Homo sapiens: one gene and its partners. The protein of the gene in region 3 interacts with the protein of the main gene of each other region in a pairwise test. Each region holds a gene or a part of one and is shown on either strand. Other genes may lie near its edges.

What was found.
Region 1: the proteins of NOC2L (region 3) and RBFOX1 interact in a two-hybrid assay, tested with the Homo sapiens proteins (one large-scale study listed by BioGRID).
Region 2: the proteins of NOC2L (region 3) and ATXN7 interact in a two-hybrid assay, tested with the Homo sapiens proteins (one study listed by BioGRID and IntAct).

Annotation. Positions count from the first base shown.
Region 1 is NC_000016.10:7,709,006-7,711,569, reverse strand, and holds part of RBFOX1 (RNA binding protein fox-1 homolog 1), read right to left. Parts: intron 2,515-2,564; coding exon 2,439-2,514; intron 2,077-2,438; coding exon of another isoform or gene 1,929-2,076; exon of another isoform or gene 948-1,928; coding exon 825-947; 3' UTR 1-824. UniProt on the Homo sapiens protein: RNA-binding protein that regulates alternative splicing events by binding to 5'-UGCAUGU-3' elements. Regulates alternative splicing of tissue-specific exons and of differentially spliced exons during erythropoiesis.
Region 2 is NC_000003.12:63,978,867-63,982,522, reverse strand, and holds part of ATXN7 (ataxin-7), read right to left. Parts: intron 2,609-3,656; coding exon 2,356-2,608; intron 338-2,355; coding exon 78-337; intron 1-77. UniProt on the Homo sapiens protein: Acts as a component of the SAGA (aka STAGA) transcription coactivator-HAT complex. Mediates the interaction of SAGA complex with the CRX and is involved in CRX-dependent gene activation.
Region 3 is NC_000001.11:943,703-946,635, reverse strand, and holds the end of NOC2L (nucleolar complex protein 2 homolog), read left to right. Parts: intron 1-90; coding exon 91-234; intron 235-349; coding exon 350-463; intron 464-982; coding exon 983-1,118; intron 1,119-1,489; coding exon 1,490-1,579; intron 1,580-1,835; coding exon 1,836-1,942; 3' UTR 1,943-2,433; downstream 2,434-2,933. Other genes in the region: SAMD11 (sterile alpha motif domain-containing protein 11), read right to left, coding at 2,483-2,728, 2,828-2,933.

The DNA of each region.
Region 1 (2,564 bases), on a different chromosome or scaffold from region 3:
TATTAATGTTATTTTTTCCCTCCCATAATATAAAAGTCAGCAGTGATATCAATAATTTATTATACTGGAAGAAATATAAAAAGAATGCTTGTTGATGGCCTAACTAGTGGGTTTTTTTTCCTAAATAGCGACTGGTTAAGAAGCTGAATACTGCCGGGTGGAATGGTTTAAAGGGTGGGTTTGCACAGCTTCATTCAACTCAGATGCACAAGTGCTACTAGAAGCACCCCCTTAACAACATGACCTTTGGCTTGAACTGGCAATGAGTAACTTAGAACCATTGATAAATGATTGTTGGTGCAGTGGGTCGTTTAGATTCATCAGTTACATTTTTTTTTTTTTCTTTCAGCCAAACCCCAGTTCCAATCCCCTAAGCCCCTCCCAACCTCCCCTTTCGCAAAATAAAATAATGCAGGTGCAGAAAAAAATGACTACTGTAGTCACTTACACTCTTCCCAAATAGCTGATAACCCCAGTAGCTTAATATTCAGCATATATAATTCATTTACATAATATAGCACTCTGGATATGGCCCTAAACCAGTTTTTATTCATTATCTAGCATCTGTCTAGATCAACCACAAAAACTCCTACAGCCAGCAACCAAACTACGGAACCTTCAGAAATTAAAGACCCACAATATTAAAATACACAGAACAAAATATCTGAGGTATAAGATAAAAAATGTAATTTTTTTTCCTTTTTATTTGTATTTTTTTTTTTTTTAGAGTTGCTAAAATGATGTACTACTGCATGTATTGCAATACTCAGGCCTCGGAAAGCTTCCTTTCTCCCCACATTGGAAGGTTTTTATGGTTTTGTCATTTAGTATGGAGCAAAACGGTTGTATCCCCCTCGGTATATACTAGCCTGCAATGAAGAAAGAACGAGACCCACATCATCAGCATGGCTCCTAGTCTTGGCATCAGTCAAAGGTGCAAAAGCATTCTGAAACAAAGCAATTTGAGGGGTGTGTTTTTTACATTTTCCTTTTGCAACATGTGGATCATCAAAAAGACTAATGTGAAAAATAGACACTCAAAACCAACCGAAATGGAGGCACCCCCTACCCATCCCAGGTCATTCTTGGAGAACTAAAGATAGGGCCATTCCTGACCTTCCCCAATAGCTCCTCCTAAAGAAATTCCCTGCAAAACCAAATTCTGTCAGCCAGTCCTCTTAGCTAAAAGGACTCTATTATAAGCTGGACAATGGAAGGATTTTCACTGTCTCATTTTTTTATAACAGAATAATCTGCACTTGAGGTTGAATTTGGACCAGTTGTTGAATGTAATTCAACTCTCCAACACATTCCTCATGTGGACTAGGTGTTGAAGCAGAGTTGTTGAATGCAGAATTGGGATGAAAATCTCAACCTACTTCTTACTTAACTTGGCTCTGTAAGCTGTATGGAATCTGATCTTGAGAAGGGAGTTGTGGAGTTGTACAGATGAATTGCTTGATGTAATTAAGCTTGTGCAAAACAATGCTTCCAAATCATGGCTGAATTTCTATGACTGAGCTTCAGTGAACTGTCCGGCCATGGTTTTAATGGCTACAAGGTGGCACTTAACGATTTCCTTTTTCTAAAAGTATTGGCAATTCAAATGAATGCCTATGGGGATTCATTTTTAGGGTAAGGACTGATATTCTTGATCCAAGCAGAAAACTGCATGCCAAAGCTTTGTAATGATTGCATATGCTCTCACGTGATGGGCACGTCTTACTGTACTCAAGAGTTTCAGTGCATAGAAGTTTGAACAAGTACAGGCAAGTTCACCCCACCCTTACCTCCCATTTTTTACCCTCCCCCCACCCCCTCCCAAAACAAAAACCCAGACCTGCCCCAAAACAAAAGGCAACCCCCAAACCCAGCTGATTCCTTCTACTTTCTTATGTACTAGGTACACACACAAAGTGTGCCCCTCTCTATTTTCTTTCCTGGGCGACTATGACTTTAAACATGAATTGTAATAGGGGAGGAGAGGCAGTCAGATTCTCAGCTGCCTGACAGCAGAGGCCTGGAAGTGTGCAGCTTAGCTCCTCTGAAGTCTGTGCTGGGGCTGGAACCTTGGGGCTATGTGAATGAGCAGCAAGGGAGGGAAAAAAAAAGAAAAAAAAAAGTTCTGCATTGACACTGCATTCTGTTAGTGATGGATTTAATTATCAAAATGACTAATTATTCCATTAAGGTAAGTGCTCTGCTAGGTGAGACTTGCAAAATTAGAAATATAATAACTTACATGCACTACATTGCCAAGAAATTAAGACATTTATCAAGTTTACTGGGAGGATTAATGTGGCATTTTAGCTGCTGTTAGCACAAGAGACAAATTCAATTAACGGGAAGTGAGAGGACGTCAACCCGTACTGAGGTCCCAGCTGGGGAAAGGGAAGGGAGGCAGGAGGAAGTGAGGACAAGGAGAAACTTGTACTCACCATGGCACCAACGCCGTAGGTGGGGGCTGGAGCAAGTGCGTGGTGGTAGGGGTCGGCAGCATAAACTCGTCCGTAACTGAAAGGAAAATAGAGGTGAAGATTGATCCACAGTATGCAATTACAAAA
Region 2 (3,656 bases), on a different chromosome or scaffold from region 3:
TTGCAGTTGATTTGCTCCCCACGAATGCCCATTTAATATATAGAGAAGCATTATGAAGAAAGAAAATTTGAAGTTACCTGATAATCTCTTATTTAAAAATTTCCTATTATTGGAATTGTCTTCAGGTTTCTTTTCCAGAGTGGGCGGTGCAGGAAGCCCTTTGCCATTCAGAATCTGTCCAGGTGAAGGCAAGGTTGGCTTTGGTATTGAGGGGCAGTTAAGGCCAGGCTTGACTAAGGAACTCACAGTAGCAGGACAGGTTGGCCCCACCGCAGATTTCAGTAGTGTGCCATCCATTTTCGGATGAATCTTTTCCACTTTCACAGAGGGTGTCATGCTGTCACAGGAGGAAGTGAGAAAACCAGTGCCTGAGTGCCTCAGCAGCCCCCAGGTGAATGGTGAGCCAGAGGGATGAGGATAGAGCCTGGGCCTACCCAAGCGCTGCACAGGGCCAGCCTCTTGGAAGGCTCCTTATGAGTTTTGTTAGTAAGGTTCATACTGATTAAGTCTATAAGCCCTTCTGGTGAGGCAAAACCCTCAGTGGACCATCAAATTTGCCTGGTCTTTCATCATTTCAAAAAATTTTACACATGAGGCAATGGGAAACTCAGACCTGATACCCAATGCAATGCAATTTCTATAAGAAGCAAAACATGAGAAGGTCTAAAAGAAACAAAGACTATTTGCAGAACCCTTGGAGAATATCTTTTGAGGACTGCCATTTGTACGAAAGGATTCATCAAAACAAAGTAAACTTCTGAGTGAGCAAATATTTCCAATAAATGTCACTAAAGACTTATGAGAACTCAAACATGCTAAATAACATATCTCCAAGAAGAGGTTCTTTGCTTCTGTCAATAAGGGAGACTAGTGTTTAATAAATATATGTTGTGTCACTAAAGTGGTAATTCTCCAGTCCTTGAAAAATGTTTCTATGACAGGAGCTTAGGGAATACCTGTGCCATTAACAAAGATATGAATCTTGGAATCTTACTGACACTATCATTTTGCTTGGTAAAACTGAAAATACTGGTAGGAAGCTAACAACTGGCCTGGTTCCTATCTAAAGGCCTAGCTCTAAGTAAAGAAGATTTGAATCAATGAGGTTGTATAAACTTTGTTCAGTGGAGTCAGTGCTCTAACAGCTGTTAAGCTGGCCAGTGACTTACACACTACACTGGCACCGTTTGTGGCTTTCAGACTGCTCCCGGAACAAAAACCAAGCTTGCTGTACTGTACTTCTGACAGAAGAACAGGGGCTGGGGGCTTAGCAACCAGGACAAACAGCCCCAAACAACTGTACCTGGAATAGCCTGACAGCAGTAGAGAGACTGCAAGATGTCACATCCTCTCCCAGCTGGCAAGGTCCTTATGCAGCAGCAGGTGCTGGACCCTACCCTGAGATTAACCAGGTTACCGGATCTTGGACCTACGATGTGTGCTATACCCTCCAAAAGCAGGCTGGCCCAAGAAAAGCCATCCGTCACCAGGCTGAGGGATGCCATGACAAGGCGAAGCATGTTCCTATTGGAGTGCGTGGCTGCTCCCTCACGTGACCTCAAGAAACCTGTCAATCTACTGAGTGACCATGGAAACTTGCCAAAGCCATGCCTGGCAGGTGTGAACTTCCTTCAGTCTTCCCTCATCACTGCTGTGATGTGAACCTAAGGCTGAAGGGAGGAAGCACTGCTTCCCTATTTGCTCCGTAGACCCCCAAAAATTCTACAGCAGCATCTGGGAATCTCTGCATCTTTTTATCATTACTATTATCCACAGCAGCAGTAGCAGGAGTGCCAGTATCCATTTGTTAACCGTCCCCTATGGCCAGACACTATGCCAGGTGCTAGACATATATTAACTAAAATATTCTCAATAACCCAGCATAGTGGCTGTTATTCTTAGACAGAAACAGTGCCTTGCCCAAACCCCTACAGCTAAGAAGTGACAGAAATGGGACACAAATCCAGGCCTATGTGACTTGAGGCCTTTTTGGACAAAACTCCCCCACCTCACGAAGCTTCCTTCTCCTCATCTGGAAAACGAGGATAGTAACAGTACCTATTCCATAGGGTTGTTGTGATAAGTGACATAGTACACACATAGAGTTAGGTTTCAGTAGCTAGCACACAAGAATGGATCAATAAATGTTAGTAACCTTATTATCACTGCTATTACTACTCTGAAAAGTTTCCTATGACATGACAGGGAAACATCAAGAAACAATACAACATACATTTGAATTCTTCCCCAAGTAGACTCTCTTTTATATTACTCACAGGCACTCTCACATGCCACTAGTGTACACAGTTTCATTTCCAGCAGGTAAGCTTTAAAAACCCTCTTGGCCATACTCACATTCTACCATGGGGAACTCTACTTTGCTGAATGGGATGCATTGGCCTGGTGTTCCCCCTGAGCTGCAGTTTCTCTTTGGGTGATTTCAACAACTTGGAACTTGATGAGGATGCGCTAAGAACACCTCCACTGGAAGAACGGTTGCTTCCACTTGCACTGCCTCCTTTGCTTTTGGACAGAGAAGGGAAGAAGGAAAATACTGAAGTGGGAGGAACGGCCAAAGGCGGCTTGCTGGATGAGCTATGTCTTCTTTCTGAAAACGAAAGCAAAGAAAAAAAGACATCATGTTTTAGGCGAATCTCAAATGTAATTCTGGAAGAATTCCCTGAAATCAATATATTCAGGTTAAAACACGTGTCGTTAAGTGAAGGTATGTTAAACTCAGCAGACTTCAGAAATGGCTCATCTAGGCCCCACAGACTTACTTAGCATTCTAGGAACGGGTCCTTCTCTTTCTGAAGTATCTCAGCATAAAGAGTTTTATCACATACACCCATCAGGAAATTAGACAACCATCGTAAACATGAGAATATTGCCTTTTGGGTTTTGCGTGCTAAAAATGAACCTCATTGGCTCCAACTTGCATTAAGAGAGAGGAAAATTATTCATTCATCTGCAGAGCTCTGCTAAATGACACTGCAAGCAATTCTTTCTTCCTTTCTAACACCGCACCTCTCTGATTTTCAAAATAGCAAAATCTTAAGAAACAAGTTGTACCTTCTTTTTTTTCCCTGTCACTACCCACCAGCAGATGACACCAAATAAGAATGTTTCTAGGGTTATCTTATCGTTCCCTAAGAATCTGTGCTGAAATTTTCCAGTGAATCATTTCACTTCCCACCCCCCCTTTTTTAATAATCTCACTTGACTACAGATGGCATAGCTCCGGTTCACACCGCTAAGATGCCAAAGGCGCAAGACAAAAATACCACAAATAGCTACGCCTGTTTTTTAAACCAGGAAGTAATTCATGGTTAAGTACAGACTACAAAGGTTTAGCTGAAAATAAATCTATCCACTGGAGAATCAGGTTTTCTTAGAGTAAGGTAATCCATACTAATATAAATCAAGAGCTGTTGAAGAATGTTACCATCAGAAACAAGTAAATCATTTGGTAACTTTATCCGCTTGAGTACCTTAGTGGCTGCCTTTAATTAATTAATTTAAAATTACACATTTGCTTAACTCTAAGTTTTAAAATGCATGTGATCCAACACTGCCTTATCACAATACAGGAGCTATATAAGTATTTAAAACATTAAGCACATGATGATCAATGACCACAAGTAAGACTTCAATGG
Region 3 (2,933 bases):
GGCCACCACGCGTGGTTTTGCACAGGACCTGGGCCAGCTGTGCACATGGAGCGGTCCTGGGCTTCAGTGGCTGACCCCTCCCTTCCGCAGCTGAAGTCGTTCCTCCGGGAGTGCAAGGTGGCCAACTACTGCCGGCAGGTGCAGCAGCTGCTTGGGAAGGTTCAGGAGAACTCGGCATACATCTGCAGCCGCCGCCAGAGGGTTTCCTTCGGCGTCTCTGAGCAGCAGGCAGTGGTTAGTGGGCCCTGGGGGTAGTGCCACCTGAGGGCACCTGCCAGGGTATAGCCCCAGCTACATGTGGGGGTTTGCCCAGGGTGAGGCATGACCCTGAACTCCCCCAACCCCCCAGGAAGCCTGGGAGAAGCTGACCCGGGAAGAGGGGACACCCCTGACCTTGTACTACAGCCACTGGCGCAAGCTGCGTGACCGGGAGATCCAGCTGGAGATCAGTGGCAAAGAGCGGGTGCGGCTCGGCGAGGGGACCTGGGGGTGTGTTGTGACTTCCTGGGTTTCAGATCTAGCGCACTATGACTTGAGACCAGGGCGAGGGTTTGGAAACAGTGCCAGGCGGCCAGGGCCGTGCCCGGATGATTCGACTTGGAGAGGGGGTAGGTGTTGGAGAACTGGCCAGAACCAGGCGTTTCCAGGGAGGGGAAGCCCCAGGCTGCACTAGGTTGGGGAGGCCATGCCCCCTCAGGCCTGATGGGCTGGAGGCTCCGGGCAGGTGGAGTGGCTGGACTGACCTCGTCACCCAGGCCAGTATGTGGGCACCAGGGGCCCGTGAGGAGAAGCAGGAAGGGCTCTGCCTTTGACCTTGGACATGGGATGGACAACTTGGAGGATGGCTTTGTGATTTGGGAACAGAGGGGACTAGAAATTGGCCACATGGGGCCCTGGTGGTGGGTCTGGCGATGCCTGGCCCTGCTGTGGCCGCCAGCCCCTGCCCTCTCTCACCTGAGCCCCTGGTTCTTTGGCCTTCCAGCTGGAAGACCTGAACTTCCCTGAGATCAAACGAAGGAAGATGGCTGACAGGAAGGATGAGGACAGGAAGCAATTTAAAGACCTCTTTGACCTGAACAGCTCTGAAGAGGACGACACCGAGGGATTCTCGGAGAGAGGTGGGGCCTGCGTGGTGCTCCCAGGGGAAGGGTGGGCCTGGAGGGCTCTGCTGGACTTCCCAGAGCCACGAGGGCCACCTGTACCCATCCTGCAGGGGGCTCACCAGTCTCTGGCCCAGCTGGGGCCAACCTCAGTGTTGCCAGGCTTCTGGTGCCAGCGCCTTCCCTCCTTGAAGTGAAGGCCTACTGGGATTGGTAACTCTGTCCCCAGGCCTGTGACCTCCCAGTTCCTCCCCAGGGCTCCTCTCCACCTGCTGGAAGTCAGCGGAGGGAAGGGTGTTGGGAGCCTGGCCACCCTCCTGCCCCCACTGTGACTTTGCTGGTGGACCCTGTGGGTGGGAGTCATATGGACTCTGCTTCTTGTTCCTCAGGGATACTGAGGCCCCTGAGCACTCGGCATGGGGTGGAAGACGATGAAGAGGACGAGGAGGAGGGCGAGGAGGACAGCAGCAACTCGGAGGGTGAATGGTCTTGGGGTGAGAGGGTGTGGCCCTGTGAGCCCATCTGGCGGGAGGGCAGAGCCACGTGGGCGGGGGGCGTGGGGCTCTGGGCCAGGCTTTTCCCTCCCTGGGAAGGCCAGGCCAAATGCTCTGTTCTCTGGCAGCCAGCAACAGGGATAAATTAATTAGTGCCGTGATTAATTAGTGATGAGTAACCTCTAAGGCTGGCTTCTTCCTGATAAAGCAAAATTTATGTAGCCTCCATCTCTCCCCGCAGATGGAGACCCAGACGCAGAGGCGGGGCTGGCCCCTGGGGAGCTGCAGCAGCTGGCCCAGGGGCCGGAGGACGAGCTGGAGGATCTGCAGCTCTCAGAGGACGACTGAGGCAGCCCATCTGGGGGGCCTGTAGGGGCTGCCGGGCTGGTGGCCAGTGTTTCCACCTCCCTGGCAGTCAGGCCTAGAGGCTGGCGTCTGTGCAGTTGGGGGAGGCAGTAGACACGGGACAGGCTTTATTATTTATTTTTCAGCATGAAAGACCAAACGTATCGAGAGCTGGGCTGGGCTGGGCTGGTGTGGCTGCTGAAGCCCCACAGCTGTGGGCTGCTGAAGTCAGCTCCGCGGGGGAGCTGACCCTGACGTCAGCAGACCGAGACCAGTCCCAGTTCCAGGGGGAGGCCTGCAGGCCCCTGGCCCCTTCCACCACCTCTGCCCTCCGTCTGCAGACCTCGTCCATCTGCACCAGGCTCTGCCTTCACTCCCCCAAGTCTTTGAAAATTTGTTCCTTTCCTTTGAAGTCACATTTTCTTTTAAAATTTTTTGTTTTGCATCCGAAACCGAAAGAAATAAAGCGGTGGGAGGCAGGGCCATTGTGTTGAGTGGTGGCTCCTGGAGATTTGTGTGGCCCCACCCCTACCCCCGGCAACCTCAACACAGAGGCTGGGAAGGGTCGGGGGCCCCTGGAAGTAGAGCCAAGGTCCCATTCTCCTGCTTGGGTGAAGTTTGACCGGCAAGGGCGTGGCCCCCTCCATAGGGGGACGTGGCCGTCGTGGGGGACAAGGGCTGCTCTCCTGTGCCGAGTTCTCGCTCCGGGGCCCGCAGGGTTGGTGGCTGCAGTGGCAGAGCCACGGGGAAGCTGGCCACGTAGAAAACTCGGCCCAGGCGCCTGGCCACCTGCAGAGAGATGGCCTGGTGGGGGCTGTCGCACACCCACCCAGAGCTTTCTGCCCAGCTGTGGTCTGGAGACCCTGACCTCACTCCCCAGCGTCTCACCTGGGCCCGGATCTTGAGGGCGGGCCCCAGCTTCAGCCCCATGTTGGTCAGCAGGTGCTCCTCCGTCAGCAGTGGCAGGGTCTCCCCGTCGATCCCCTGCTCCCTG